Homo sapiens: one gene and its partner. The protein of the gene in region 1 interacts with the protein of each later gene in a biochemical or structural test. Each region holds a gene or a part of one and is shown on either strand. Other genes may lie near its edges.

Region 1 (15,633 bases):
GCAATGGGAGCACAGAAGAAAATTGAAAGGAATGAAGGGAAGGAAGGAAGGAAAGAAATTAAAGAGCTGTAGAGTGAGTAGGAATGCTTTTGAGGGAATTCTTTTTAGAGGGTACAATCTGAGCCTAGTTTTGGTGGGATCAGTAGGAGTTCAGCATCAATACTGACATCTTCATTTTTTTAAATGGTTGTGTCCTATTACTTAGTAAGAGATACCACATAATTTGGAAGTTCTCAAAGTATTATCTGGGGACACTTCAGAGAATCAACCAGGTGAAGACCATTTTTATAATAATACTGAAATGTTATTTGCCTTTTCAGTATTGTTCTCTCCCAGGTATACAATGGAATTTTCTACAGACTGTGTGACATGTGATGATACTATATGATGAAATGTGTCAGCATTTATAAGGTGTACATAACTCAATGAATCATTGCTTTCCGGATGACCAGTGTATAATGTTACAAAATTATGCATGAGTGAAGGATCCATTTAAATTGCAGGATAGACCAACAGATTTTAATATAGTTTATGACTCTACATTGCTGCTAACCTTTGAAAAGCTGCCACTTGTTGAGTTGATGTAGTGTCGAACAACTTTCACAGTTTGAAAAGGGTATTAAAATATCCTTCCCCTTTTCAACCAATAAATACGAAGCTGAATTTTCTTTAACATATATACATATATGTATGTATGTATATGTATATATATGGTGAAGAAATAGGTTTCCGGCTGATTTTTTGTGGCCATTTTTTGTGCTCACGTGCCTGGCTGATGTTTTATATATTTTGTAGCAACAGGGTTTTGTCATGTTGCCCAGGCTGGTCTGGAGCTCCTGGGCTCAAGCAGTTCACTGGCCTTGGCCTTCCAAAGCGCTGGGATTACAGGCGTGAGGTGCTGTGCCCAGCCTTGTTATAACCAAAACAACATAGTCTAACAGATTAAATAAAGAAACAGATATGAGATTCCAACTTCTGTTAAACTAGATATTAAAGCAATTTGTAGAAATGTAAAACAAAGCCACTCTCTGCACTACATTTTTGTTTGTTTGGAAAATAAACTTTTTAGTCATTAAGAAATAGGTTATAATGGGTACAAAAAAATAGGATGAATGAATTAGACCTAGTATTTGATAGCACAACAGAGGGACTATAGTCAATAATTTTTTTTTTTTTTTTTGAGACAAAGTCTCGCTCTGTTGTCCAGGCTGGAGTGTAGTGGCGCTGTCTTGGCTCACTGCAACCTCCGCCTCCCTGGTTCAATGGATTCTCCTGCCTCAGCCTCCTGAGTAGCTGGGATTACAGGTGCCTGCCACCACGCCCAGCTAAATTTTGTATTTTTAATAGAGATGGGGTTTCAGCTTGTTGCTCAGGCTGGTCTCAAACTCCTGACCTCATGATCCGCCCACCTCAGCCTCCCAAAGTGCTGGGATTACAGGTGTGAGCCCCTGCGCCCAGTCAATAATAATTTAATTATGCATTTTAAAATAACTAAAAGAGTATAATTGGATTGTTTATAGCATACAGGATAAATGCTTGAGGGGATGGATGCCCTGTTTTCCATGTGATTATTATGTATTGCCTGCCTGTATCAAAACATCTCACGTACCCCAAAGATAATACACACCTATGTACCCACGAAAATTAAAAATAAATTTAAAAAAATTATGTTAACATTTAATGGGTTGTTAATTTTTAAATGAATCAACTATTTTTAAAATTTCTCTTTGAATTTCTAACTCACATGCAGAAAACCCCATCTCTACTAAAATACAAAAAATTAGACAGGTGGGGTGGCGGGCGCCTGTAATCCCAGCTACTCAGGAGGCTGAGGCAGGAGAATCGCTTGAACCTGGGAGGCAGAGGTTGCAGTGAGCCGAGATCGCACCACTGCACTCCAGCCTGGGCAACAAGAGTAAAACTCCATCTCAAAAAAAAAGCTCTTTGGAACCCTCAGTAATATTTTAGAATATAAAGAGTCCTAAAAGCTAAGAACTGTTTACATAATTTACTACTCTTCTCTATTGAAGGCTCTTTGGATTGCCCAAATATTCAATTATTACAATTATTATGCTGCAGTAATGTCCTTTTACTCATTTAAGCAGAATGTTTCAACCCAGGAGCAGTTGGACCATGAATGCGCCAAATGCTCTTCTCTAAGAAGTCAGTATGAACTATTAGTCTTTTATCCAAACAATTTGCTTTAGACATAAACTGATTAGTGAATCAGAACTTTGTTTTAAATTTTGCATAGAAAAGAATCTTGAAATAATTTCAGGAAAATAAAAATAGAAAAAATTTGGTACAGAAGGAACAGGATTGGAATTTTGGAAAATTAGAAACAAACGGACTTTGCCATTTTAAAATTGAATCAAGGAATTTAATTGGCTTAATGATGTTTAATCTGGGATATATTTGCTGAATAACAGAAACTCTCAATGCTGAAATAGTTCTGTGTATTCATGAACTTGTTCCTCCCCCCCAGATGGCAGATGGCAGTTCTGTCCTCCCAATTGCTCAAGCCAAAATTTTATAATCATCCTTGACTCTTCTTTCTTCATATTCCCCTTCAGTCTATCAGCATTATTTTGTTACTTCTCTCTTCTTAAAATAAATAAATAATATATAAATAAGTAAGTAAATCCCAATTTAATTGTTTTTCACCCCCAGCATGGCTGCTACCCTGTTCCTGGTCAGTATTTCTGCCCATATGTCATAACCAGATATTGATGGTACCTGCAGTAGTGTCCTTTCTGATCTCCCTTAATTTTACTTCTGAACTTTTTTTTTTTTTTTTTTTTGAGACAGACTCTCACTGTGTCACCCAGGCTGGAGTGCATTGGCGCGATCTCAGCTCACTGCAACCTCCGCCTCCCTGGTTCAAGTGATTCTCCTGCCTCAGCCTCCCACATAGCTCGGATTACAGGCACATGCCACCATGCCCAGCTAATTTTTTGTATTTTTAGTAGAGACGGGATTTCACTGTGTTAGCTAGGTTGGTCTCAATCTCCTGACCTCATGAGTTGCCCGCCTCGGCCTCCCAAAGTGCTGGGGTTATAGGCATGAGCCACTGTGTCCATCCCCTTTTTTTTTTTTTTTTTTTTGAGGCAGAGTCCTCTGTCGCCCAGGCTGGAGTGTAGTGGTGTAATCCCAGCTCACTGCAACCTCCGCCTCCAGGGTTCAAGCGATTCTCCTGTCTCAGCCTCCCCAGTTGCTGGGATTACAGGCACCCGCCACCATGCCCAGCTAATTTTTATATTTTAGTAGAGACAGGGTTTCGTCATTTTGGCCAGGCTGGGCTTGAACTCCTGACCTCAAGGGATCCACCTGCCTCAGCCTCCCAAAGTGCTGGGATTATGGGCGTGAGCCACTGCACCCGGCCTACTCTTGAACATTTGCAGTCTGTTCTTCACACTAAATTTAGAATGCTTTTTTTATACTTCTTTTTTTTTTTTGAGACAGGGTCTCACTGTGTTGCCCAGTCTGGTCTCGAACTCCTGGCCTCAAGTGATTCTCCTGCCTCAGCCTCCCAAGTAGCTGGGATTATAGATAATGTCACTGTGCCTGTCTGATTCCTTTTTAAAAAATAAAATCCTGTCACTCCTCTGCTCCAAACCCTTTGGTGGCTCTCCATTTCACACATTAGGAAATCTAGACTTTTGTTTGGCCTACAAAGCCCTCTGAGTCCCAGCTGTCACTCAGATCCCATATTCTACTGTAATCCCTGTCTTCCCTTCTGTCTTACTCATCATATATCTCTATTGCTGTGCCTTGTGCCTCACATGTGTCAAACACCTCCCTCCTGCCCTGGGACCTACTTATATGCTCTGTTTCCTCTACCTGGAATGTTCTTCCCCTAGGTAGTCCTAAGCCTTGGTCTGTTTCTTCACTCAGGCCTTTGCAAAAATGACACCTCCTTAGCGTGAGCTTCCCTCATTGCCCTCATTCTGTTACTGTCTCACCTTGCCTTGTTTTTCTTCATAGCATTTAGTACCGCATGACAATATTATTATTTGCTTATTTATTATCTGTCTTTCCCCACTAAAATAAAAGCTTCATGAAGGCAAAAGTTTTGTTTTATTCACTGCTACATCCCAGTATGCAGAACAGCTAATATAAATCACCCAATATATGTTTGTCTAAATGGAACATGGGAGGGAAGGGGAAGGAGGGAATCAAAATAGTGAGGTCAAAATGTTCTTACTATTGTACCTTTGTTTGCACATTTGTTTATTTCTGTAGGATAGAATTTTGTGGCAATAGAATCGGTAGTTTAAAAGGTACGTGTGTGTTATATTGAATATATATGTAATGTGCTTTTCTAAGAAGATAATTGTGTCATTAAAGAAAAATTATTGAGTTTCATTGATTATTTTTCATGATTTTGTTAGATTGTTACAGAGCAGCAAACTGGGCAGAAAATCCAGATTGTGACAGCACTTGATCATAATACCCAAGGCAAGCAGTTCATTCTGACAAATCACGACGGCTCTACTCCAAGCAAAGTCATTCTGGCCAGGCAAGATTCCACTCCGGGAAAAGTTTTCCTTACAACTCCAGATGCAGCAGGTGTCAACCAGTTATTTTTTACCACTCCTGATCTGTCTGCACAACACCTGCAGGTAAATAACTATAGAAGTGTCTTTTCCTCTTACATATATAAAAAAAAAATTTTAATCATAAGCCCTGCCATGAAGACTTTAGATCTATGTATATTCAGTAGGAAAAAAATGCATAAAATTATGTGTAACACAGTATCTACAGTGACAGCCCTCTCCTATGGGCCACTGTACTTTCCTCACACTCATATATTTTGGGGATTCTTTGTTGCATACAGTAAGATCCACTCTGGCTATTGTAGCCAGGACAACAGCCTTTAATAAAGGATACAGAGAGCTTGCAGAATTGTTAGGAAGGTTGAAGAAACAGTTCTAGGCCAGGTTTTCAAGATCGACTATTGGAGCATGCTGCAAAACTGGCTTCTAAGAGACCTCCTACTTCATAATTAGGAAATTGTCAAATCAGGAGCAGCTTTTGTAGCTGTATTTTCCAGAACCAAGCTGCCTGTGCTACAAACAGGAAGCTGCCAAATCAAGAAGTTTGGACTATAGCTGCTGGCTTCAACATTGTGCCTCCTTTGTTGTCATGCACATCTTCATGAAATAGCAAGCAGTGCAGTCATGGGCTCCTGCTTTACTCTGGAATGAAGTAGTATATGTTAACATTACATCATTTTAGTTTTCGCTAGAATAGAAAATTACACATTATTCTTCAAAGACTCAAAAACTTTTATACACCACATGCCTGTGGTTATGTCGATGTTTTCACTGCTGGTTGCTATGATTGAATACAAATATAATGTACTCTGAAGTTTGCCTTCAGAAACTTTTTGAAGGGGGTCTACTTAAAATTGGGTTCTATCTTTTATGATGAAAAACTCACGAAAGAAAATTCCTCTTTGGATTGAAAAACTCTGAATTCATAAAACACGAAATTTTGTCTGTATATCCTGATATCATCTATTCATCCAATGATATTTGTATTAGTTTTGGAAATAAAGGTAGAAAGTGGATACAGTCACAGATTTATAAGAAGTTGTTTTATCAACAAGACAAAAGTCACAAAAAAATGTATAACATTATATGTACCTTAATTTTTCTTTAAGTAGTAGACTTGATATTTTAGAATAGTTTTAGATTTGCAGAAAAACTGAGCATATAGAACAGAGTTCCCATATTACTCCCCCGTAAATACACACAGTTCCCCTATTATTAACATTTTACATTCATGATATAATTAATGAGCAATACTGATACATTGTTAACTGAAGTTTATAGGTGTTTAGACTTTCCTTAGTTTTTGCCTAATGGCTTTGTTTGTCCCAGGATCCCATCCAGGATACCTTATTGCATTGAGTTGACATGTCTCCTGAGGCTTCTCTTGGCTAGGACAGTTTCTCAGACTTTCCTTGTTTTTGATGACCTTGACAATTACGTGAGGAGTACTGGCCAGGTATATTGTAGGATGTGCCACTATTGGACTTGGTCTGATGTTTTTCTCATGAATGTGGGTAAATCCCTTAATCTCTCAATATCTCCTTCCAGACTTAGGAATAATAGATAAAAGATTAGCACCATTTGCAACAGGTAGGCTATTAAAGAGTAATACTTGCCATAGATGCTTTCATAGGACATCTAGTACCAGAAGCTTAAGTACTTACTGAAGACTGATTTTTGTGGTGATATAAGAAGAAATGATGCTATATATTACATAGTAAGGGGCAGTCATTTTAAGAACCATTTAAAGTTCATAAAATCAGAAGTATTCCTGGAGGAATTCAAATGCCATTCCATTTTCTTTAATTGAATTTATTTGTTCACATTTCAAGATTGAAAGAAAATGATGAAAAGGTTGAAAGATAAACCTAAAGGAAGAAACTAGTTTGCTGTTTTTTGTTTTGTTTTGTTTTGTTTTTGAGATGGAGTCTCGTTCTGTCTCCCAGGCCAAAGTGCAGTGGTGCAGTCTCGGCTCACTGCAACCTCTGCCGCCTGGGTTCAAGCGATTCTCCTGCCTCAGCCTCCCAAGTAGCTGGGATTACAGGCACTCTCCACCACACCCAGCTAATTTTTTGTATTTTTAGTACAGACAGGGTTTCACCACGTAGGCCAGGCTGGTCTTGAACTTCTGACCTCAGGTGATCTGCCCGCCTCAGCCTCCCAAAGTGCTGGGATTACAGGCGTGAGCCACCGCACCCAGCCTTTTTTTGTTTTTTAAAGAAGAAACTAGTTTCCTTTGCCAGTATCTTATTAGCTGTGCCTAGTGATGAGCTTTTTAAGTCCATACCTTTGTATAGCGAGCACATCTGCATGATTATAATTACCTCAAGGAAATTTATTTATAGCCCCTTTTCTATTTAAAAGGTTTAGAGTTATCTCTTTATGCCATTATAAGCTTATTTTTGTCGTCATTACATGTGGAAAGGTTCTGAGCTCTTCATAGAGTACAAAGTTTAAAAATAACTTGTGAAAAAGAAAGCAACAAAGCAAGACCAACTGAATGTTCTTTAATTTTTTTAATAGAATGAGTGCTGTTGAGTAACAACAGGTTTTCGTTTTTGTTTTCTTTTTTTTTTTTTTTTTTTTTAGCTCCTAACAGATAATTCTCCAGACCAAGGACCAAATAAGGTTTTTGATCTTTGCGTAGTATGTGGAGACAAAGCATCAGGTAACATTAAGAATAACCTCCTAAAAACAGAAAAAAAAAATAACCTCCTATATGTGTCGTGTTGTTGAAATAACTACCACACTACCATGTTTCTTCTACTAAAAGTAAGAAGAGAAATAAAGGAGTATGTCGTTTTTATGGTTCATATTTGTAGCCTATAACATTTAACTAATTTTTTCCCAGAGTTCTTTGTTTGTGATATAGAGTCTCACTGTTGCTCCGGCTGGAATGCAGTGGCGTGATCTCAGCTCACTGCAGCCTCTACCTCCTGGATTCAAGAAATTCTCCTGCCTCGGCCTCCCAAGGAGCTGGGGCTAAGGTGCATGCCAGCACGCATGGCTAATTTTTGTATTTTTATTGGAAATGGAGTTTCACCATGTTGGCCAGGCTGGTCTCAAACTCGTGACCTCAGGTGATCCACCCTCCCCTCCTTGGCCTCCCAAAGTGCTGGGATTACAGGTGTAAGCCCCCATGCCCGGTCCCAAAGTTCTTTATTCACTTATATTTTTTAACTTCAGTGCAATTTAATATGATTTGTAATGAAATAAAATGCATATTTCACTTTTGAAAGTGAACATGTAAAAAAAAAATTTTTTTTTTTTTTGAGATGGAGTCTTGCGCTGTCACCCTGACTGTAGTGCAGTGGTGCAATCTCGGCTCACTGCAACCTCTGCCTCCTGGGTTCAAGCAATTCTCCTGCCTCGGCCTTCTGAGTAGCTGGGACTACAGGCGTGTGCCACCATGCCCTGCTAATTTTTGTATTTTCAGTAGAGACGGGCTTTTGCCATGTTGGCCATGCTGGTCTTGAACTCCTGACCTCAAGTGATCCACCTGCCTTGGCCTCCCAAAGTGCTAGGATTACAGGCGTGAGTTACCACGCCCAGCTGTAGAAACATTTTTTAATGTGAAAACTAGAAATTTTGGCAAAGGAATCATTTAAAAATAATGACTTCTGATCTTTAATAATATATTACATTAGGCCAGGTGAGATGGCTCATGCCTGTAATCCCAGCACTTTGGGAGTGGAGGCAGGAGGATCGCTTGAGGCCAGGAGTTCAAGACCAGCCTGGGCAAAATGGCAAGACTGCCTCTACAAAAAAAAATAATAATAAAACTGGTCGGGTGTGGTGGCGCAAGCCTGTAGTCCCAGCTAGTTGGGGATATCCCTTGAGTCCAGTAGTTCGAGACTGCAGTGAACTGTGATCGCACCATTACACTTCAGCCTGGGCCACAGAGCGAGATCCCGTCTCTAAAAAAGTTATGATAAATAAAAATAACTTCTAAAAATGTTTTTCATGTCAGAAGCTCAAAAATCAGTTTCATCTTATATGTTGTTTAAAGGGAAGAAATTGGCTTATGTCATTTCTGTTCTGAAATAATGTGACTTTTATATTTTCTTAAACATTTTCTCTCTAGGACGTCATTATGGAGCAGTAACTTGTGAAGGCTGCAAAGGATTTTTTAAAAGAAGCATCCGAAAAAATTTAGTATATTCATGTCGAGGATCAAAGGATTGTATTATTAATAAGCACCACCGAAACCGCTGTCAATACTGCAGGTTACAGAGATGTATTGCGTTTGGAATGAAGCAAGACTGTATGTATTAGCTTTTAAGGAGAAAATACTTTTTAAAGATTCCAGCAAACTACAAGAGTATTGAAATTAACAAAATATGTCAAATATGTATACTTTTTAGTTTACAGTTTTCCAACTAAAAATATAAGAATACAGACCTACGTATGTACTTTTTTATTTATTCAACTAATATTTATTGAATACCTGTGTAAAAAGCACGTATTTGTAGTTTGTGTTTGGCAAAAAGAATGAGAGATGCAAATTGGTTTGTTTTACTAATCTAAAGCAACTTTGTTGAACTTGCACATAATTTCTAAAGATTGATGGTTATCTTTGGAGTTTAGTATGGTAGCCATGTCTCCTATTAGCAGCATTAAGCTTACCTACAGCTTACATTTCTAATTGTCTGTAAATCCTATATTGTGATATAATAGTTTAACACATTTTTGTAGCTGTCCAATGTGAAAGAAAACCCATTGAAGTATCACGAGAAAAATCTTCCAACTGTGCCGCTTCAACAGAAAAAATCTATATCCGAAAGGACCTTCGTAGCCCATTAACTGCAACTCCAACTTTTGTAACAGATAGTGAAAGTACAAGGTAAAGTAAAACAGACACTGAGTAGCTGGTCATTTTGTTTTTCTTCCCAATGAAACTCAGGCCAAAATTTGTGCTGATTTGTTACAGGTCAACAGGACTGTTAGATTCAGGAATGTTCATGAATATTCATCCATCTGGAGTAAAAACTGAGTCAGCTGTGCTGATGACATCAGATAAGGTGTGTTTAGTACAATTTAAAGCTTAGATAATTTTAAGCATTTTAAAATGTTTTCTAATCACTTCCTTTGCTTTGGTAAATTGCTTTGTTCTTAAATATTCCATATTACAAGTTGCCTTTTTTTTTTTAATATAAATTAGAAATGTTCGGCTGGGCACAGTGGCTCACATCTGTAATCCCAGCACTTTGGGAGGCCGAGGCACATGGATCGCTTGAGGTCAGAAGTTCAAGACCAGCCTGACCAACATGGAGAAACCCCGTCTCCAGTAAAAATGGAAAAATTAACTGGGCGTGGTGGCGCATGCCTGTAATCCCAGCTACTCGGGAGGCTGAGGCAGGAGAATCGCTTGAACCCGGTAGGTGGAGGTTGCAGTGAGCCGAGATAGTGCCATTGCACTCCCGCCTGGGCAACAAGAGCGAAACTCTGTCTCAAAAAAAAAAAAAAAAAAAAAAATCAGAAATGTTCATAATTTCACTAGGATGATTATCCCTTCAACATGAAAGCAACAAACACGTACTCTTCCCTCATCTTGAAATACGAGTCCTCAGTAAGACATTTATTATAGGTGTAAAAGTCTTTTTTTTTTTTTTTTTGAGATGGAGTCTCACTCTGTTGCCGAGGCTAGAGTGCAGTGGCACAGTCTCGGCTCACTGCAAGCTCCGCTTCCCGGGTTCCCGCCATTCTCCTGCCTCAGCCTCCTGAATAGCTGGGACTACAGGCACCTGCCACCACACCCAGCTAATTTTTTTGTATTTTTAGTAGAGACGGGGTTTCACCTTGTTAGCCAGGATGGTCTCGATCGCCTGACCTCGTGATCCACCCGCCTTGGCCTCCCAAAGTGCTGGGATTACAGGCGTGAGCCAGCACGCCCAGCCGTACAATTCTTAATATTTCTTTTATGCTCCCTTACAGATTTGTTAGTGCCAAAATACTTTTTTTATTTTTTAGTGCCAAAATACTTAAAATATTTCAGGTAAAAGGAAATTCTTAGCTCACCTCCATCAAAATATTTACTTGAGTCAAGAGTAGGAATAGGACTGCAAGAGCTCTCCTTTTATGTATCCAAGTCATCCAGTTCTCTTAGAGATTGGAGCAGCTCTATGTTAGACCAAGGGTCTAAAGGAAAAACAGTTTGTTTATTTAAATTGAACATGAAGAGTTTCTGTACTTGTCAGAAGCCCTTTGGGAGAACAAGAAGCAAAAATTTCTCCTGAAAACTCATATCTGAAAACAGATTTTAGGAAGCCTATGATCAGGGTTTCTCTCAACCATGTTTGTTTTTTAAACAGGGTCCCCTCTTGTCACCCAAGCTGGGGGTACGGTGGTGGCACAGTAATGGCTTGCTGCAGCCTCGTCCTCTCAGGCTCCAGGGATCCTCTCACCTCAGCCTCCCAAGAAGCTAGGGCTGCAGGCACGTGACACTGTGCCTGGCTAATTTTTCCTATTTTTGTAGAGACCGAGTTTCATTGTGTTACCCAGCTGGTCTCGAACTCCTGGGCTCAAGTGACCCTCCCACCTCAGCCTTCCAGATTGCTGGGGTTATGTGCATGAGCCTCCCTACCTAGCTGGGATCTGATTTTTTTTTTTTTTTTTTTTTTTGAGACGGAGTCTTGCTCTGTTACCCCGTCTGGAGTGCAGTGTCCCGATCTCGGCTCACTGCAGCCTCCGCCTCCTGGGTTCACGCCATTCTCCTGCCTCAGCCTCCCAAGTAGCTGGGATTACAGGCGCCCGCCACCACGCCCGGCTAATTTTTTGTATTTTTAGTAGAGACAGGGTTTCACCATGTTAGCCAGGATGGTCTCAATCGCCTGACCTCATGATCCGCCTGCCTCAGCCTCCCAGAGTGCTGGGATTACAGGCGTGAGCCACTGCGCCCGGCCGGGATCTGATTTTATATAACCTATAAGATTATTTGTCCTGTTTATGCAAGATTTGTTATATATTTGTCACTTGATGCTTTAAGGCGCTCTAAATACTTAGGCTCGGAAATCAAATTTCATCTACCACTTACTAGCTATATAACATTAGGCAAGTTATTTGACCTCTTAGTGCCTTACTTTCTCATCTGTAAAATAAGAGTAATAAAAGTATCTTACAGTTTGGGCTTTAGCATGTAATTGCTAGGTGAGGCAGTGGCCTCTTGCCATATATTTTGGAAAACTTCACTTAGCCCTGTCTGCATGATTCAAGGTTAGAATGATAATTGGTTTTACTGACATATTAACTCCTTTAAGAAAGGAAGGGAACTAGGTTTCCTTGACAAACTACTCTGCCCAGACACTGTGCTCTCTTGTATATCTTTGTATTAAATTGTTATGACAACCGTATGGTAAGCTTCTCTGATAAATTGCCCCAAAACTCTGAAGTCACAAGATGAAAGTTTTCTATGTTGGCTAAGAGCCTTTAGGGGCAAAAACTTAAGAATCTAGTTAGAAAGAAAAATTCTTCTGCCTTGGGATCCTGTTGATCGGTGACCTTACCCCCAACCCTGTGCTCTCTGAAACATGTGCTGTGTCCACTCAGGGTTAAATGGATTAAGGGCGGTGCAAGATGTGCTTTGTTAAACAGATGCTTGAAGGCAGCATGCTCGTTAAGAATCATCACCACTCCCTAATCTCAAGTACCCAGGGACACAAACACTGTGGAACGCTGCAGGGTCCTCTGCCTAGGAAAACTAGAGACCTTTGTTCACTTGTTTATCTGCTGACCGTCCCTCCACTATTGTCCTATGACCCTGCCAAATCCCCCTCTGCGAGAAACACCTAAGAATGATCAATAAAAAAATAAAATAAAATAAAAAAGAATCTAGTTAGATATGTTGCTAGGTAGAAGAGACTATATAAGCTTCTAAGTTTTAGGTGAATATTAAAGCATTTAAAATTGTAACTAATGTACTTTTTATTCAAATATAAGAAAATTTCTTGGGGCAGTGCTTAACATTATGGGCTTTTCTGGGCACAGTGGCTCAAGCCTGTATCCCAGCAGCTCAGGAGGCTGAAGTTGAAGAGTTCCTTGAGGCTAGGAATTTGAGACCAACCTGGGAAACATAGCGAGACTCTGTCTCTAAAAATAAAAAAATTACCCAGGCATGGTGGTACATGCCTGTAGTCCCAGCTGTTTGGGAGGCTGAGGCAGAGGATTACTTGAGCCTAGGAGTTCAAAGCTGCAGTGAGCTATGATCCTGGCACTGCACTCCAGTCTAGGCGATAGGAGTGTCTCTAAAAAACACTGTCTCTTAAAAAAAAAAAAAAGCATAGACTTTGGCAGTCAGCCAGTCCCACCTCTACTATTTGGGTCATTTTTCTGGTTAGCAATAGAGGAATGATGATTTCTATTTCAGAGTTGTTATGGGAGTTAAATAAAATGCATATATAGGTATTAATTATGTAAGAACATGATAACTGGTAGGGTTTTCAGTAAATGATTTTTGGACCATTGATTAATTTGGAGAAGGCACAAAAATTATTTTATTCTACTGATTCACCAAAATCTCACAGAAACTGATTGTTATAATAAATGAAACATCATGGGAACATATGTGTTATTTTAGTATTAAGAACACCAAAAAGGGCCAGGCACAGTGGCTCACGCCTGTAATCCCAGCACTTTGGGAGGCCAAGGCGGGCAGATCACGAGGTCAGGAGATCGAGACTGTCCTGGCTAACACAGTGAAACCCTGTCTCTACCAAAAATACAAAAAATTAGCTGGGCATGGTGGCGGGCGCCTGTAGTCCCAGCTCCTCAGGAGGCTGAGGCAGGAGAATGGCGTGAACCCAGGAGGTGGAGCTTGCAGCGAGCCGAGATCGCACCACTGCACTCCAGCCTGGCGACAGAGTAAGACTCTGTCTCAAAAAAAAAAAAAAAAAAAAACACCAAAAAGAAAAAACCATGAAGAAAGTATTAATAAGAAGATACCATTAAGGGGTTGGCCCAGTAGGCCATAGAAGGCAACTTAAAAGGCTTCTCATTAGGTTAGGATGGGAAAGGATTTACAAAAGAATTTAATAAATTTAAATCAAATATATGAAAATCTATGAATTAAAAATTATACTCAGAAAAACTCATGTATCATAATTAGAAATTGCTAGGATATCAGCTTCTTGCTCTGAAAATTGATAACAAAGTAAAAGAAAAATAAAGCACTTACCTGCCTTTCCCGTACAAATTATATTTCTGAGTTGTCAAAAGAGTTGAGAGAAAATTCTTTTTTATAAAAGAATTGTAGCTAATGCACAAGTAATATACACATTTTCAACAAACATTAAAAAAATGAAGACAAGCCGGGCACGGTGGCTCATGTCTGTAATCCCAGCACTTTGGGAAACTGTGGCAGGTAGATCACTTGAGCCCAGGAGTTTGAGACCAGCCTGGGCAACATGATGAAACCCCATCTCTACAAAAAATTAAAAAATTAGCTGGACATGGTGGTATGCGCCCGTAGTCAGGAGGCTGAGGTGGGAAGATCACTTGAACCCAGGAGTTGGAGGTTGCAGTGAGCTGAGATCACACCACTGCACTCCAGCCTGGGTGACAGAGTGAGACTCTGTCTCAAAAAAAAAAAGACAAATAGATCAGTATCTTACCTATATAAAGAGAGTTTTCAACTCCAGTGACAAAAAAGTGAAGAGAATAATGGGTAACTGATCTATTTCTTTTAATGTTTGTGTTTAACACAGTGCCTTTTAACACATTTAATTAACACAATGTTTGGCAAAAGTTGGCATCCTAGGAAGTCTGTTCAACAATTCATTTGCCATTTTTTCCCCCGCTCTTCACTAGTATTCTTCATATTCCATACAAGTTTATAGTTTGTATAGTAAGTTTTAGAAATTGTACTCAGGAGGCTGAGGCAGGGAGGATCACTTGATACCAGGAGTTCAAGACCAGCCTGGGCAACACAGCAAGACCCCATTTCTAAAAATGAAAAAACAACCCAGGCATAGCAGTGCACACCTGTAGGATCAGCTGCTCAGGAGGCTGAGGTAGGAGGATCAGTGAGCCCAGAAATTTAAGGATGCAGTGATCTGTGGTCGTGCCACTGTACTCCAGTCTGGGTGACAAAGGGAGACCTTGTCTCTTAAAAAAAAGTAACATATACGGCCGGGCGCGATGGCCCACGCCTGTAATCCCAACACTTTGGGAGGCCGAGGCAGGCAGATCATGAGGTCAGGAGATCAAGACCATCTTAGCCAACATGGTGAAACCCTGTCTCAGCTAAAATACAAAAAATTAGTTGGGCATGGTAGCATGTGCCTGTAATCCCAGCTACTTGGGAGGCTGAGGCAGGGGAATCGCTTGAACCTGGCAGGCAGAGGTTGCGGTGAGCTGAGATCATGCCACGGCACTCCAGCCTAGTGACAGAGTGAGACTCCATCTCCCAAAAAAAAAAAAAACAAAGTAACATATAAACATTTCTTAAGAAATACACTTGATGTTTTTAAACTTGTATTTTCCTCAGTAAATTTCTGAAAGCTCAGCCCTTTAACTTTCCAGGTTTCATTTATCATACTGTTCTTTTGTTGGCATATCATAATCTATAATTGGATATTTCAGATTGAAAAAAATAGTGATACCAATTCACAGAATTTTAATACCCTTTTTTTTAAAGGCTGAATCATGTCAGGGAGATTTAAGTACATTGGCCAATGTGGTTACATCATTAGCGAATCTTGGAAAAACTAAAGATCTTTCTCAAAATAGTAATGAAATGTCTATGATTGAAAGCTTAAGCAATGATGATACCTCTTTGTGTGAATTTCAAGAAATGCAGACCAACGGTGATGTTTCAAGGTAAGGTATCTTTTGATTATCAATGTCCTTTTGTTTACATGTCTTTCAGTATTTCTTAAAACATTTTTATGTTAAATGCTATTTATAAAAGTTTCAGAAAACAAATACAGGTTGATTATCTAAATACAGGTTGATTATCTCTTATCCGAAATGCTTTGTTCAGACCAGAAACACTTCAGATTTCAGATTTTGGAATGTTTGCATTACTCTGGGTACCATGCAGGCCTTTCTGACCTTTTCAAAAATATCTTTACACCACAAAGAA
Region 2 (15,633 bases), on another chromosome or scaffold:
GCCTGGGCAAGCTGCCCAGACAGACCTGCTCTATTGCTTCAGTGTGCTGGCCCAGGATGCGGCCCTCCCCACTTGTGTTCCTATTACTGGGAACACAGGCAGCATCCCCAGCCAAGGGGAGCTGAGATTCAAGGTGGTCCAGTGTTTGCAGGGTCCAGCTACAGGATACACTTGGTGCATATTAGTTCCCATACTTCCTGGCTCAGCCTCTTGTGAGTCAGGCTAACAGGAGTCAGTCTCCTGCACTTGAGGAATTCTGGAGGTACTTGCACAACAGTGCTGTGGGATGGGACTTCTGGTAAAAAAAAAAAAAAAGCATCAGGGTAGGTGCAGGCTTACAGGAGTCAATGAAACTAGGACTCACAATCAGTACACTGTGTGTGGGCATGGCTGTGCTTGGGAGTTTGTAATGGCAACACAGACACATAGGCAATGACGGACACTGCCCCGTGAAATACGTAAGTGTGTGTGCAGAAACAACCAGTTGCTCACGGATACAAGGAATGGGGACTGCCCCTACAGTGGAATCATCATGATAAGGTCACGTGCGCTAATATTTACTAAGCACACGGCTGGAACTTACGAGGCAGACACCTGCTTTACTGCCTTTACAGACAGAAAAGCTGGAGCGTAGAGAGATGGAGAAGCGGCAAAGCCCACACAGCTGAGGGTGGCAGAGCCAGCCAGGAGACCACGTGGCTAAAGGAACGCACTGCGTCGCTGTGCACGGACACGGGAAGATGGCTGAGAGTGTGAGGTACTAACAGAAAGCATCAGACACAACAGAGTCCCGTCTCTGTGAAACAAATTATGTTTGTGTCTATCTGTCCATCTGGCTATGCACAGAAATAGATCTGGAAGGTTTAAAGCAAATACTAACAACCTGCCACCACTGGGGAGTGGCATTACGGGCAAACGGCATTTCCTGTGGGTTTCTATCATGTTTTTCTTTACAATGAACATGTACTGTTTTATAAATTTGTTTAAAAAGTAATCAAGACAAACTAAGAAAGGACACCAACGAAGCGGGACTCCCTGCAAGTCTCCTGGGACCAGCCAGGGTGGGCCAGCTTAGTGGGAGGATTCTCCTTGGTGGCGGTGACTGGGGTCTCCCTTGTCTGAGCTGCATTCTTTCAAGAACACACTTATTGCAGTCAGCTGCCCAGGACTTGTGGAGTGGGTCATCTGGCTGCTCCTGTGACCTTCCATGGTTTTCTTTCTGAGAAGCAGCATTTTACTTGCTGGATACCTACTCTGGAAATTTGTCTCTGAATATGAATAGCATCCTTCTAAGACCTGAGAGTGAGAACCTCGCAGACTGCAGAACACTAAGCCACGTGATGAGAATCATCTGAAGAATGAAGCCGTGCTGTATTTACAGAACATTTTTCTTAGTGCGTCATTAACAAGAAATATTAGATCATAACAACATGAAGAGCGCTCCTGCCTCTGTGCTTGTCTCAGAGGCAAGCCCTGCCAGAAGCCAGCCCTCCTTCCCTCCTCTCCCCTGCAGGGGTGGCTGGGTGGCGGGGCGGCCCAGGACAGCAGTCTCCTCCCCGGCTCTGGCTAGCTCCAGGCAGACAAGTCCAGGGCCCGGCCCCTCCTGCCTCCTCAGCCGTGGTGGACGCCTTACTTGCCTCCTTCTTGTGAGGGAAAACCAAGGACCCCTGCTGGCAGATCGCCTCCCCGGGGTGAGGATGGTATGAGGGATGGCACAGACAGAGGACGTGTGGCTCCCACAGCGTGTCCCAGGGGTCCCGGGCTCTGCTCTCGTGTAATCACAGCCCCCCGCCAGCCATTCACAGCCCTGTCACTGGAGCCTCAGCGTCAACGCTGTGGACGTGGGCGAAGTGTGAGGGAGTAAGCGGAGAAGCGTGGGCTCATGATTCCTGAGCCGGACCAGAAGCTGTAGGTTCTCATGGCCCCACGGGCATGGGCTGTGGACTGTTCTTGGAGGAGACCATGGGTCTCTGGGACAGGAAAGTGGGCAAGTGAGCCCGTGACAGGTCCCCAGCATGACAGAACTGAAGGTGTGGGGTGTAGGGCGGGGAGAGGGCCTCTGTGACAGACCTGTGTGGTCCCCACCATCCAGCGTGGCCCTCGTGCCTGCCCAGCCCCTCCTCAGCCTCTGCAGAGCTGGGCCGGGAAGAGCCCCCCGCGCTGTGCCCACTGTGGCCCGCGTTGCACCCTCAGGCTGCACAAAGGCCACGTGTTACCTGTCGTGAACCTCGGCTTGGTGGGGGGCTCCTGCACAGACACGGGGAAGGTGGCAGACGCGGGTGAGGACTGCGCCCGGGACAGAGGCCTGTGGCCGCCGAAGGACACGGGGATGCCGGCGGCCTCCATGGACGCCTGGTAGTTCCTCAGCTGGTGGATCCGCTGCTGCTCCAGCAGGAGGGCTTGCTGCGGGGAAGAAACGGCCGTGTTGGCGGTTGCGGATGTCTCCCGCCCCTGGGCTGCAGGGCTAGGGGTTGCCCTCTCTTGCAAGTCTCCCGTCCACGCACAGGCCATACATGGGCCACAAGGATGCCGGGAGGCCAGCTGCGTGGAGAGGCCTTCCCTGTGAGTGCCCTGAAGCCTGAGTGGGCCCAGAGCCAAGAACGAGGCCAGCACAGGCTCTGCCTCCCAGGACGGTCTCTCTAGGGAAGGCAGGCTGTCCACGTGGGATCCTGCCATGGGTTACGTTAACAGGATAACACAGGTTGAGTCAGGGGGTCCCAGGGAGGCCTGGCCCAGTATGGGGTATCAAGGAGGGCTTCTCTGAGGAGGTGCTGAGCCAGGAGCAGCCTGGAGCAGGTGCAGGGGAGTAGGGCCTGGCAGGTGTGGAGAGAAGCTCTTGCTGGGGCGGCAGCCTGGCCCTCGCTGGTTTCACTGGGGGATATGCGAAGGCCATGTAGATGTGGGGACCACAGCGTCCACTCTGCCATACCACACACATACGGTGAGTGGGCACGAAGCCCAACCCCCTTGTTGGGTTTGTGGGTCTTAGTTCTGACCAACAGCATTGAATCTGCATGCCAAACTTGGGCGAGAAAGCACCATCGGCTCTCAGACTTGAAAGTGCCAACTGGGCTTCATCTGCAGCCGCTCCCCTCCCTGGTCTCACATCCCACACACCCTCGTGCAGGCTAAAAGCAGTAACAGCCCATCAGCTTCTGGGCACCCAGGACCTTTGGGGCCTAGAGCAGGCCTGCTGGTGGGGATGTGCCTCTCTGATGAGATGGAGCTGGGCTGGGCTCTGTGTGTGGGGGGGGCACTCAGCCAGGGGCCTGGGACACCCTGAGGGATTCTGGGAACAGGCTGAGGTGCAAACCCCCATACGAGGCAGAGTGGAGTGGAGGGAGCAGGGCAGAGATGAGGTCACAGCTGCCAAGCCTCTCCCCAGACAGCAGCTGAGGGAGAGCACAGCAACCTGCCACCCAGGCCGAGGCACAAAGAAAGCCGGGCGCCTCCTTGCTGGGAGCTCTGCGCCAATCCTGTCTTAGTTTTGATGAACAAATCCTGTGAACATGGAAAACCAGGTACCTACATCCCAGCTCCTGTATGAAGGCAGAGCCCAGCCCTGTGCTGCCAGCACTGGGGGAAACCAGAGCTACCCGGCCAGGCTCCGATCTGTCCTGCCTTTAGGAATCAGGCTGGGCGTGGTGGCTCATGCCTGTAATCCCAGCACTTGGGGAGGCTGAGGCGGGTGGATCACCTGAGGTAAGGAGTTCGAGACCAGCCTGGCCAAAATGGTGAAACCCCATCTCTCCAAAAAAACAAACAAACAAAACAAACAAACAAACAAAAAATTAGCCAGGCGTGATGGTGGGTGCCTGTAATCCCAGCTACTTGGGAGGCTGAGGCAGAATAATTGCTTGAGCCCAGGAGGCGGAGGCTGTAGTGAGCTGAGATGGCACCACTGCACTCTAGCCTGGGCAACAGAGTGAGACTCTGTCTCACACACACACACACAAAAGGAATCAGAGCCAGGAGGGAGCAGAGAAGAAGGAAGCCCTGAGACAGTGGGAGGAGCTGCAGCAGGAGCTGGAGCAGGAGCCAGCACCCACAGGCCCCCAGTCTGCTGCTGACCAAATTCAGCTGGGATTGCCGTGGGCCCCACGCGGTTAAGTGGTTAATAAGCAATCCTCCCCGACGCGGGCTGGAGGTGCCCCGCCTTATGTTTACCTCGGCAAATTGCTCCGTGTACTACGACGTTTCCCTGATAAGGGGTTCTGCCTATTACTCTCCAGAGAGAACAGAAAATAAGTGTTTCTAATAATCATCTCATGCTTGGAATATAACAAGCCTCTTTTTCTCAAAGTAAAGGCTGATCTATGAGAAACTAGCCCTAAAAATTATTAATGTAAATAGTTTCCCATTTCTTATCAGCCTAATAATAGCACACTGAATTTCAGATCTTCATCAACTTACAAGGCCCGACCACAGGAAGAGGCCCCCACCCTGGGCCTGTCGGACAGGACCTGTGGACGAGTGTTCACCATGAAGCACCGTGTGTGTGCCAGAGAGGCCCGGGGCTTTCTCTCTCTGTCTTTGCCAAGCGTTAGTTCTGCTGGGCTTTGTAGTGTTTAGTGCCCGGGGTGCTAATTAAGAAGGCCCAGAAATTAGAGACAGGCCCCCCTCTGAACAAGAAGGAGAAATAGCACCCAATGCCAGCCACTGGGGGAAGCTCGGTGGAGAAGGGCTCCTGACCCAGAAGCCTCTGGAGACCACTGAGCACTGATCCCGTGTGTGGCAGGCTTGGGTCTAGGTGCTCCAGGTACAAGGCCCCACACTGATTCATTCAGTGGCAAGCATTTAAGAACTGTAGCTGAGAATTAAGGGGAACAGTTTACTGCAGGGCGTCCTGCTCCTGGCTTCCAAGGTGCTGCTGGGGGTGGAGATGCAGCGTCTGGCCACACAGCTGGCAGTCAGGAAGCTGGGGAGGTGCTCAACGGCACGGCCGGCATGGAGTCCAGAGAGAAGGGAGGGAACGAGCCAGTGGCTCCTGCAGCCGAGGCAGCAGCTCTGCTGCTGGAGGATAGAATCAAATCCTACAGAGCTGTGGTTCCTCGGACTGGCTTCCTGCCTACAGGGAGGAAGCCACTTTCCTGAGGGCACTCTAGCTGCAGATACGGGGCTCCAGCTGGCTGCCCAAATGCCTTAGGTATTTCTGCTGACTCAGAAGTTTAATGTTTCAATGGAAATTAACCAGTCATTCACTGGCCTTCTTCATCAGTCTCCTGTGAGTTTGGTTACTGGGTGTCAGTGCCCTGAAGCCTTACTGGCTCTGGGTGCCACAATCGCACCCGTCTGTCTGGATCTGCAGGGCTGCTCATTAGCACCTCTGGGTCACAAAAGGTCTTGACTTCTGATCAGGCCCTGCCTGCCTTTTTGATCAATTAATACCTCTAGTTCCTTCACTTCTTTAAAAAGCATGCTGTATCTCACTAACACATGGATTCTGTGTTCATTTACAGCCTACAGACAGGAAGGAAATCCATTCTCTGGGGCCTGCGCATGGCTGGAAAGCAGTTACGTAACCACCCACAGGGGGCAAACATCTCGTATCCCTAGGAACGGCTGGGACAAAATGGAAGCCACATCAACCTCCCTCACTGGCCAGGACAAGACAGGTGAGACACTGGACAGTGACCGCGCAAGGATGCCCTGCAGCCCCCGTGATCACCACAGAAGATGCCACCTGGGGACCGAGGGTGGCTGTGCGTGCCAGCCTTCTGGTGCCCTCCCCGCCTGCGGTCACCTGTCTGAAGAGCAGCTCCTGCTCACTGGGCTGGCGCTGGCCCGGCTCCACCTCCCGTGGGGGCTCTGCCTCTTCCTCATCGCTCTCAATGGGCTCCTGCTTCACCTGCACGCCGGCCTGTGCGTGCGCCTCCTTCTGCCCCGGCAGCCGGTCCAGGTAGGGCTCGTCCAGCAGAGCCTGGTGCTCACGGAGCTCCTCCTCCGTCTCCTCCGGGTGGCTCTCCGGCTGCCGGGCTGGCTCGCTTGGCTTGGGGATGATCTGCAAGGCGGAGGTAACACATGAAGCACAGAGAGCTGGGTCCTCTGAGCTCATCTGACAGGAGAAGGGATGCTGCAAACCCCACCCTCTGGGGCAGACAATCAGGGACTCAGGGCACCTTATCACCCTGCCACAGGCCAGCAGGCACCTTTATCTCCCAACAGGCACTGGGGTGCCTGAGTGCCTAAGAAAATAATGCCCAGTAGGACCCCAGCCCAGGGTCAAGGTGACCTGGCCCAGGGAAGGAGGCTGACTAACATTTGGGGTTTACTAAGCACCTCTTCTGTGTCAGGCACCGAGAAACAGAAAAGAAGCTGCAGGTGTCAACAGAGTCTGCAGAGGAGAGCTTGAGTGTGAAGGGGAGAGGCCAATGCTGACCTCACAGCCACAACTGCTAAGAGAAACAGCCCACCACCCACTCAGCGGAAGACAACCACGTCCACAATGCTCACTGCCCAATCCCACCAACACGCCACGGCCTCCCCTCCTGCAGGATCCCACCGATGTGCCATGACCTCCCTCCTGCCGGATCCTGGGAACACTCCAGGACCTCCCTTCCTGCTGAATCCCAGGGATGCCACGGCCTCCCCTTCTGCAGGATCTCAGGGACACCATGACCTCCTTTCTTGCAGGATTCCATGGGTGCTCCATGACCTGCCCCGCTATGGGGCCCCAAGAACCGCAACATCCTCCCTCCTGTGGGACTCCCTAGATGCCCCCGACCTCTTTTCCTGTTGGATCTCACGGACGCTTCTCGGTCTCCCTCCCCGGCCTCTCAGTGCGGAACAGGCGGCAGGTGCTCCTCTCCTGCTCCCCGCCTGCTCCTCCGTCTTGGTTTGTCCTGGGCCTGCTCCTCGGCTCATTTCCCCATTCTGGATTCCAAGTATCAGCGACTCCCAAAGGTGGTGCTGAGCCCAAACTCGCTCTTTACCTCCAGACCTAATGGCCTGCCAGACGCCTCAGCTTAGCCTAGAGTGCCCATGAGCCCCAGCACAGCAGGTCCAATGCCGAACGCAGGGCAGCTTCTTCCAAGCCTCTCCCTTCTCTAGGACCTGTTCTTGGCTATTGGGACCTCTCTCTGGCCAGCTGTCCAGTCACACCCCAAGCTCCCAATTCTGTCCGCCAAGCACTGCCCATGCATTGCTCACGAGAAACGCCTCTGGACGGTGCTGCTTCTCTCCAGCCTCGACCTCCTGCCTTTCCTGCTTTGCCCCACCTGGCCTCTCCTGCCTGGATGACAGCATGGCTCCTGGGAGGCCCCCACCTCCAGCGTCAACGCTTTGCAATCTTCTTCATGTAGCAGTGAGGGCACGCTTTCAAACGGGCCAGTGGACCTGGTCACTCCCCTGCTGAATGTCCCCCAAGTGCTCTTCTGCCATCCTGCCTCTGCTGAAGAGCCCCTCCATCGTGTGGCCATGTTGCCCCTGCAGCCTCCCTGCCACCCTGCTCCCGACCACGCCGCTGGCTCTGCATCCCTCATGCCACACTCGCCTCCAGCCCGCTGCTTGCCTTCCTTCCTCGGCCTCCAGCCACTCCAAGAGGCTTTGTGAGCCTCCCGTGCATGTCACCTTTTCCAGGGTCAGCTGATCTTCCTGATAGGGCAATGTGCCCTCCTCCAGCACCCCCCGACCCCAGTCCTCTGGCTTTTCTGTGGTTGCCATTCATGTATCCATCTTTCCTGCAGTCTGCAGTTCCCAGGAGGGTAGGGACCACTTCTGACTCATCCACGTGGCACAGGCATTGCTCATCGCACATTCACTAAAAGGATGGGGCAAATGCAAGGGGTGTCCGCGTAGTGGGGCAAAGTGGAACAGGGTGTATGGCTGACCTCAATGCGCTCTGGGAGCTGTGGGAAGCCAGCAGGGCTGCAGCGTGGAAGGCCAGAGAACAGGAACACAGGGTGCCGGAGACGAGGTGGGGCTGTGGGAAGGGCACTCTGGGCTGAAAACAAGCAGGTGCACGTTCTAGAAGCATGCCCTGCTGCAGACAGGCCAGAGGTTGAAAGGGTGAGGCCAGCCCCACGTCTGGCTAAGGCATGGGAGAAAGAACAGGTTTCCATGACACCAAAAAGGAAGCAGCTCTAGGCCCAGGGACAGACTGCATATGGAGAGGCAAGAGAGGGTGGCCAGGACAACTCCTTCGTTTTGGGCAATGGAGCTGCCCCATCACATCTGGGAGCCAGAAAAGGGATGAATGTGAGCAGAGCAAAGGCTGGAGTTGAGAACAAGAGGGGAGAGAGGGATGCGGGAAGTGGCAAAAAAAAAAAAAAAAAAAAAAGCTCAGGAGAGAGGGCGGGGGTCTGGAGTTAGACTAGGAAGGGCGCACAGGGAGTTTCTCAGAAGAAGGCACTGACTGAGCTGCATTCCTCTGCAGACTGTGAAAGAACGTCCCACAATCCCAAAGTCCCAGATCGAGGGGTCTCTCCGGATGCTCGATTCATCTGTCCCCGTGGGGAACGGCCTGAAGGGCAGATTCGAGGGACGGTGGGACAAGCCGAGTTCCTGGCAGAGAGAGGAGCTACAGCGCGTGGAGGATGGATCTCGGCACCGCATCCGACTGTTTCCAGAAGGAAACTGAGGTGTGCAAGGAAGACTGACACCTGAAATCCCCCGAGCCCTTGCATTTCAACACCCTTAGAGCACTGCATGCTGCTCCACACTCACGCGAGGCGGCCTCTCCAGCAGCCTGAACTACGGGGCACGGGTTGGTGGGCACTCAGTGTCCGCTTGCTCCCAGGGGTCAGCCGTATCAGACGACACCGGTCCCCACGCAGCAGGGCTGAGACGCAGACTCACACACACACAACATGGTGAGTTTTCAGCCTCCAGAGCCCTGCTGTGCCTCACTGTGGAACATCAGAGACTTCAGATTGGGCGGGGGGTTTGTTTTATGATTGATCATCCCTTAACTTTCTTTCTAAGAGCAGTTTAAAGTACGGCAGTAAAAGCCGAGTGAAGAAAACGCAGATCCATTGTTTATCTCTAAACCGAAGGCAGCTTTTCTTCAGAAAAGCTTTCAACCTGGCACAGGGAAATGGAGCCAGGTCCAGCCGGGTGCAGGCAGCGTGGGTGTCGGGGCGGGCCGGCCATCGGCAGTGTGGGAACCAGTAGGCGGCGTGGCACGTAAGGAACTCAGCTTCAGAAAGCCAAACTCGCAGGGAGGAGAGTGCAGCGGTGGGTGGCCGCGCGTCGGGAACAGGAACGTGCTGTCCACGGGTGAGCGTGCCGTTGGGAGAGGAATAAGTTCCGGGACCTGATGCACAGTTTGGTGGCCCCGATATTCACGGACCTTACCACAGACACAATGAGAGCCCCGTGAGGCCAAGGGGGCATGGATGAGGTCCCTTGTGGCGATCATTTCACAACGCATACAAGTATCAAATCATCACGCCGTACGCTGTAAATACATGCGACTGTTTCCGGTTAGACTTTCACAAAGCCGGGGAGAAACAAGTTCAACTAAGGAATCTAGCAACATTGTCCCCATTTGCTCTGACAGGTTTCTCAGTGGTTGACCAAAAAAAGCATGTGTTTCAACACTAGTTTCACTTGATGATTTTGAGGTCTGTGATTGCTTCTGGTTTCTCAGTCCCATCTTCTTCCTGCACACTGAGAGCCTGAGAGGCCCTGTGGGGGGCAGGGAGAACAGGGAGCCTGGCGGTACCGCTGTCGCTGTGAGCAGGGGTGCCAGGTGCAGCAGGGGCGCCGGGTGAAGCAGCGCTGTTTCACAGGGGACCTCGAAGATGGCATCCAAGTCTTGGCTTTCAGGACACTCATCAAGAGGGCACCCATACGCTCAGTTCCTGCAGCTCCCCCAGGGCCCGGTGCAGTCTGATGTGTAACGGGATGTGACTGACTGAGTGGTGTATGGGAGGTTTCTTGAGAGCGGGGCCCTTATCACTCGGTGCACCGGAGGGAGAGCAAAGAACAAAGAATCTGAAAGCAGAACAATTCCCTAAGAAGGTGGCACAGAGCGCTGAGGACAATGCCCTGGATGAGGAGCAGGAGGGATTCGGGAGGAGGGAGAGCAGCAGCCAGGACGGGCCTTCAGGAAGCAAGAATGTCCTGGAGGCTGCAGGTGTGGAAGGAAAAGCAACAGGCTAAGGATGAGGAGACAGGGCTCAGACCACAGGCTGAGGACATGGGGACAGGAGCTCAGGGCTAAGGGTGCGGGGACCAGAGCTCAGGGCTGAGGGCGCGGGGACCAGAGCTCAGAGCTGAGGGTGTGGGGACCAGAGCTAAGGGCTGAGGGCGCGGGAACTGGAGCTAAGGGGAACGGAGCTCAGGGCTGAGAACGCAGAGATGGGAGCTCAGAGCTCAGGGCTGAGGGTGCGGGGACCAGACCTAAGGGCTGAGGACACGGAGATGGGAGCTCAGGGCTGAGGAGGTGTTCAGGGCCTCAGAGGGCTCCTCACAATGTGGGCTTTGCTCATCAGTGGATGGGCAGGAGAGGCTGCGGGTCTCTCCGAGGGGTGCATGGTCCTGCCTGTGCCACAGGAAGGTGCTAATGAGTCAGCGCGAGGGCAGGGGAATGCCTGCAGAGAAGCGACTGCACAGAGGCAGCAGGGCCGGGCAGAGGCTGGCACAGAGGCTGGGTCCAGCGGCAGTGGGGACCACCCGTGGACAGGAGAGTGAGCAGGAGGCACCAGGACTCCTGGCCAAGTGCCAGAGAAGGCAGTGGGGACCACCCGTGGACAGGAGAGTGAGCAGGAGGCACCAGGACTCCTGGCCAAGTGCCAGAGAAGGGCCACCACAGAGGAGGTGCTGGCCCCGGGACGGGGAGGTGGGTAGAGGGCAGCTCAGAGAGGCTGAATCCCAGCATCCGGTGGGGCCCTGAGAAATCCAGCAAGAAAGTGCAGATTCGAGTCTGGGATTTGGGAGACAGATCAGAACTGGAGCAGTACGCAGGTGGAATAAAGTCAAAGCTGGGAGCACAGAGGAGCTACGCAGAGCTGGGGAGCTGAAGAAACAGGGATGAGGCCTCAGGGACCAGTGGTAGGGTGTCGGGAAGCAGGGAGGCCACAGAGGCTCACATACAGATACATACACACACAGATACATATACCCGCAGAGGCACACACAGACGCACACAGACACACACACACAGACACAGACAGATGCACAAATAGACAGACATGCAGATACATATACACATGAAGAGACAGATACACAGATACACAAATACACATAGGCACAGGCACACAGAGACAAGGAGAGGAGACCAGAGGGCCAGCAGAAGGGTGGGTACAATGCCAGGAAAGGGCAAGGGGAGAAGGAGGAAGGTGGGGGAGGGAAATGGGGGGGCGGGGAAGGGAAATAGGGGGAGGGGTGGGGGAGGAAGGCTAGGACCTTAGAGGGGACCCTGTGGGGCTGCCCCATCCCAGCAATGACCGAAGTGGTGTGCCTGCCTTTCTTTAGCAGCCCAGGGGCCATTCTGAAGTGGATAAAAGTGATGGAGGGCAGCAACCCCATAGAGGACACAGAGGCAGGTCCCTTCTCTAGGGTGGGGTGGAGGACAAGGCAGCTGAGGGTGGAGGGGAGGGGTTCCTGCAGCAAATGGCCACTCCCAGGAAGCCAGGCTGATCGAGGAAAAGGGTTTGTCTGTTTGCCTTTTAAAGGAGACGGCCCAGGGAGGACTCGGTGGACACAGAAGCTCCAAGACTTTTCTTCTGATGCTTTCCTTTAAATTTCTTTTTTTTTTTTTTTGAGACAGGGTCTTGCTCTGTTGCCCAGGCTGGAGTGCAGTCATGCATTAGGCAGTCCTCCCACCTCAGCCTCCTGAGTAGCTGGGGAGTACAAGCATGCACCACCTTGCCTGGCTAATTTTTGTAGAGACGGGATTTCACCAGGTTGCCCAGGCTGGTCTCGAACTCTTGAGCCAAAACGATCCACCCACCTTGGCCTCCCAGAGTGCTGGGATTACAGGTGTGAGCCACCATGCCCAGCTTTAAATTTCAAACTTAAAGAAAAACTTCAAGAACTCTGTAAGAAAATCTCAAACGTCCTTCCCCTATGCACAGATGAATGGCGGTGGAGGTAGTGGGGGTCATAGCGGGGGTCAGCCTCTCTTCCTGGGGGGCTGTTTCAGGGGCCCCAAGGCCACTGCAACCTGCCTGCCTGAGGCTTTCGGCAGCCGCGTCTACCGTGCTGTGCATCAGGAGACCTCCCCACTGTTCCAAGGGCTCTTGGATGGCCCTTCCCCGGCTGGCTGCGGATGGCGTGTGCTGCCAGGGGCCGCATCTCTTTAGTGTCCTTTAGTGACAACATTCCCAGGTCTTTTTCCTCCCTTTCACGAGGATGAAGCCTCTGAAGTGTCCCCCGCTGCCGCACGCCCCTCGGCCTGGAGGAGGGATCATCTCCACACCGTGGGCCTCCGGCGAGGGCTCTCAGGCAGGGCCTGAGGAGGATGTCACTTTGGCAGTGGTGCCACGTCAGAGCCCTCTGTGACGCAGGCCAGGCCCCTTGCCTTGGCACTGACGCAGGCGCCTGTGGGTCACCTCCCTGGGCCATGGCTGCAAACAAAGCCTGCTTCTCTCTCTCTCTCTCCTTTGACATTCAGTTCTGAGTCTCACTGGCTGGGCTGTGGGCTGGGGCTGCACTGCAGAGCTGGCTTTGGGAGGTGAGCCGGACGCGGGCAAACAATTGAAGCAGCTCTGTGCAGCCCGAAGGCCTTGGGGACACTGAGAGCCCCTTTCATCAATTCAGGAAGAACAAATGCACCTCCATATTTGGAATAATTACATTTTTAAAAAGTCAGGCTGGAGTTCACGGCCAAAACCGAACTGGTAAACTGCCAGTATTTTAAAACAATCGGACACACTCGTAATTAGACCACCCAAAATATGAGTCCAAGTTTTCATATTCAAAACCGAGGATGTCAAGTTAAAGGGAAACACACCCGAGGCCCTCCGCTCTGCAGGAGGCAGGTTCTTGTGCAGAGTCCAGAAACCATGGGAAGAACCACCTTGAGAAGCAAGGCTTCTTGCTGTAGGGGTGGAGGACACCTTCCAACGAACGTCCTCTTTTAATAGAAAGAGGTATTTCGCCTGGACACACATCACCCACTGCTCGCAAACCAGACATAACTGAGGCCAAGTCCGGACGTGGCCAGCGAACACGGAGGGCCAGTTTCACCTGCAGAGTTCCAAGGTCCACTCGCCCTCTGATGGTGTGCGTTCTCCAGAAAGTTCCTTCATGCAGCAAACCCTTATAAACACCACTGCATACAAGGCACGGGCAACAGAAGCTGACACAGTTGGAAAACATCTGCCACCATCCCGACCACAGGCTGGGGAGAGGAGAGCAGAGCCAGCTCGGGGTCGATCCTGTCCACCTGGTGGAGTTTTCTCAGCCAAAAGGGGCAGCTCTGCAGGCTGCAGGCCTCGGGAAAACTAGAGTGGCTACATATGGCTGCAGGGAACACCAGGGCTAGGCACGGGCCGCCTCTCTTTCTTTTTTATTCACAGTGATGTTTCCAAAACAACTGCCCTCTAAGGTACAGGCTGAAGGAGGGGCAGACCAAGCCGGCCCCAGCTGCAACCCCAATGTAGGCTGGAGCAGCGCAGTGGGACAGGAGGGTTCACAGCTGCCAGAGCTGGGCAGATGCCCTCAGGGAACAAGCCCCTGGGGACGTCATCCTCCAAGAGGAAGGGCCGGGACGTCAGTGTTAGGCGGCCCTGGGCAAGATTCTTGTCTTCCTGGGCATCCTGGGAAAACACTGTCTAAACGTTTCAATCAACTGTCATTCACTCCCGTAAATCAATCAGAGAACAAACTCCAGTGAGAGTACCCGGTTTCTAAATCCTTCAAGAGTATACGGCATGTGAATAGGTGTTTCCTGTCTTCCTCAAACCTCCTACCCCATCACTCAGATAATGACATAATAAAATTAACAAACCTAAGTTGGCATTAGGAAGACGGATGTGAAAGTGCTTTTGACACCTGGGAGTAAAGATGCCTGGCAGGCGCCCGACACGCCCACAGCCTGTGCCCTTCCCGTCCCAATGAGGGGATTTGCTGGGTGCCCCATCCATTTCTGATGCGTTCCCTGCTGTCCGCTGATGAGGGCTTGGGGGTGGAGGGGCATGTGGGGTGGGGGTGGTGAGCCTATTTTGTGGTGTCCAGTGGGCAGCAGGGGCCAGGCTGTGGCCTGTGCTGGGCATCTGGTCTGACGTGGCTGCCACCCTGGAGCAAGGCCCCAAGGGGCCCATCTCCTCAATCCTGAGCCTGCAGCCCCATGATGGCTCACACACTAGGATGGATTTGGGCCACAGCCGGCTGCCATCTCCCAGGGGCCTTCCCCGACTCAGCCCCACTGGACCGGACACCACGCAATCAAAGCCTTTGACCACTGCGCCAGGGCTGAGCTGACTCCTCTTCTGGGCTGGAACTGTGGGGCTTGAGAGAAGGAAATTGGGACCAGGCAGGCAGGAGGGGCTAATGGTATCAGGAGGTCAGGGCTGCGGGAAGAGGCAGCAGTGTTGGTGGTGTAGGGGTCTCTCCCCACGGCTTTACCTCTGCTCTTGCTGGGATCCTGGTATTTCACTTTCCAACTCCTGTCTACGTGTGCTAGGAAAGTCTATCTCCTCCCCAGTCCTAACCCCAATTTTTCACCCTCAGGAAAACCACAGAAGACCCTGAGCCTCCGGACAGGTGGACAACCCAGGACCGGTCCTGAAATCCAGGGAAGCAACGGGGGTGGGGTGGAGTGAGGGGGGCACTTTCACAGGAGAGACAATAAACGGAGAAATGATTCCGTCTGTCGCCAAATCTGCCAAAGGTTTCTCCACGTTCCCCTCCCATCAACTCATCCTCTTTCTTCCTTGTAACAGCTTTACTGGGATATAATTCACATACCATCCAATTCACGCTTTTAAATGATATCATTTGTTGTTTTTAGTATATTTACAGAGCTGTGCAGTCATCACCATATCTAATTTTGGAATATTTTCACCATCCCTAAGAAGAGGCGCTGTTCCCCAGAAATGCTCCCCATCTGCCCGCAGCAGCCCAGGCCTGGCTCCCACGAGTCTGTGTCCTGTCTCTGTGAGTCTGTCTGTTGGGGACGTTTTATGTGCATGAAATCATACCACACGCGGCCTCTCGTGCCTGGCATCCTGCTTCCAAGGCTTCCCGTGCTGCCGCTTGTCAGTGTCATTCCACTTTATGGCTGAATGACATTCCGGCGTGTGGCCACGTTATATGACATTCCGGCGTGCCGGCGTGTGGCCGTGCGTCATTCCACGTTATATGACATTCCAGTGTGCCGGCATGTGGCCGCACGTCATTCCACGTTATATGACATTCCGGCGTGCCGGCATGTGGCCGCACATCATTCCACGTTATATGACATTCCGGTGTGCCGGCGTGTGGCCGCGTTATATGACATTCCATGTTATGTGACATTCTGGTGTGCTGGCGTGTGGCTGCGTTATATGACATTCCATGTTATGTGACATTCTGGTGTGCTGGCGTGTGGCCGCGTTATATGACATTCCACGTTATGTGACATTCCGGTGTGCTGGCGTGCGGCCGCGTTATATGACATTCTGGTGTGCTGGCGTGTGGCCGCGTTATATGACATTCCATGTTATGTGACATTCCGGTGTGCTGGCGTGTGGCTGCGTTATATGA

What was found.
Region 2: the proteins of NR2C1 (region 1) and HDAC4 form a complex in vitro, tested with the Homo sapiens proteins (2 studies listed by BioGRID).

The regions. Positions count from the first base shown.
Region 1 is NC_000012.12:95,051,497-95,067,129, reverse strand, and holds part of NR2C1 (nuclear receptor subfamily 2 group C member 1), read left to right. Parts: intron 1-4,242; exon of another isoform or gene 4,243-4,280; intron 4,281-4,391; coding exon 4,392-4,622; intron 4,623-7,145; coding exon 7,146-7,224; intron 7,225-8,640; coding exon 8,641-8,820; intron 8,821-9,251; coding exon 9,252-9,399; intron 9,400-9,486; coding exon 9,487-9,577; intron 9,578-15,186; coding exon 15,187-15,368; intron 15,369-15,633. UniProt on the Homo sapiens protein: Orphan nuclear receptor. Binds the IR7 element in the promoter of its own gene in an autoregulatory negative feedback mechanism. Primarily repressor of a broad range of genes.
Region 2 is NC_000002.12:239,109,310-239,124,942, forward strand, and holds part of HDAC4 (histone deacetylase 4), read right to left. Parts: intron 6,002-15,633; coding exon 5,744-6,001; intron 2,404-5,743; coding exon 2,217-2,403; intron 1-2,216. UniProt on the Homo sapiens protein: Responsible for the deacetylation of lysine residues on the N-terminal part of the core histones (H2A, H2B, H3 and H4).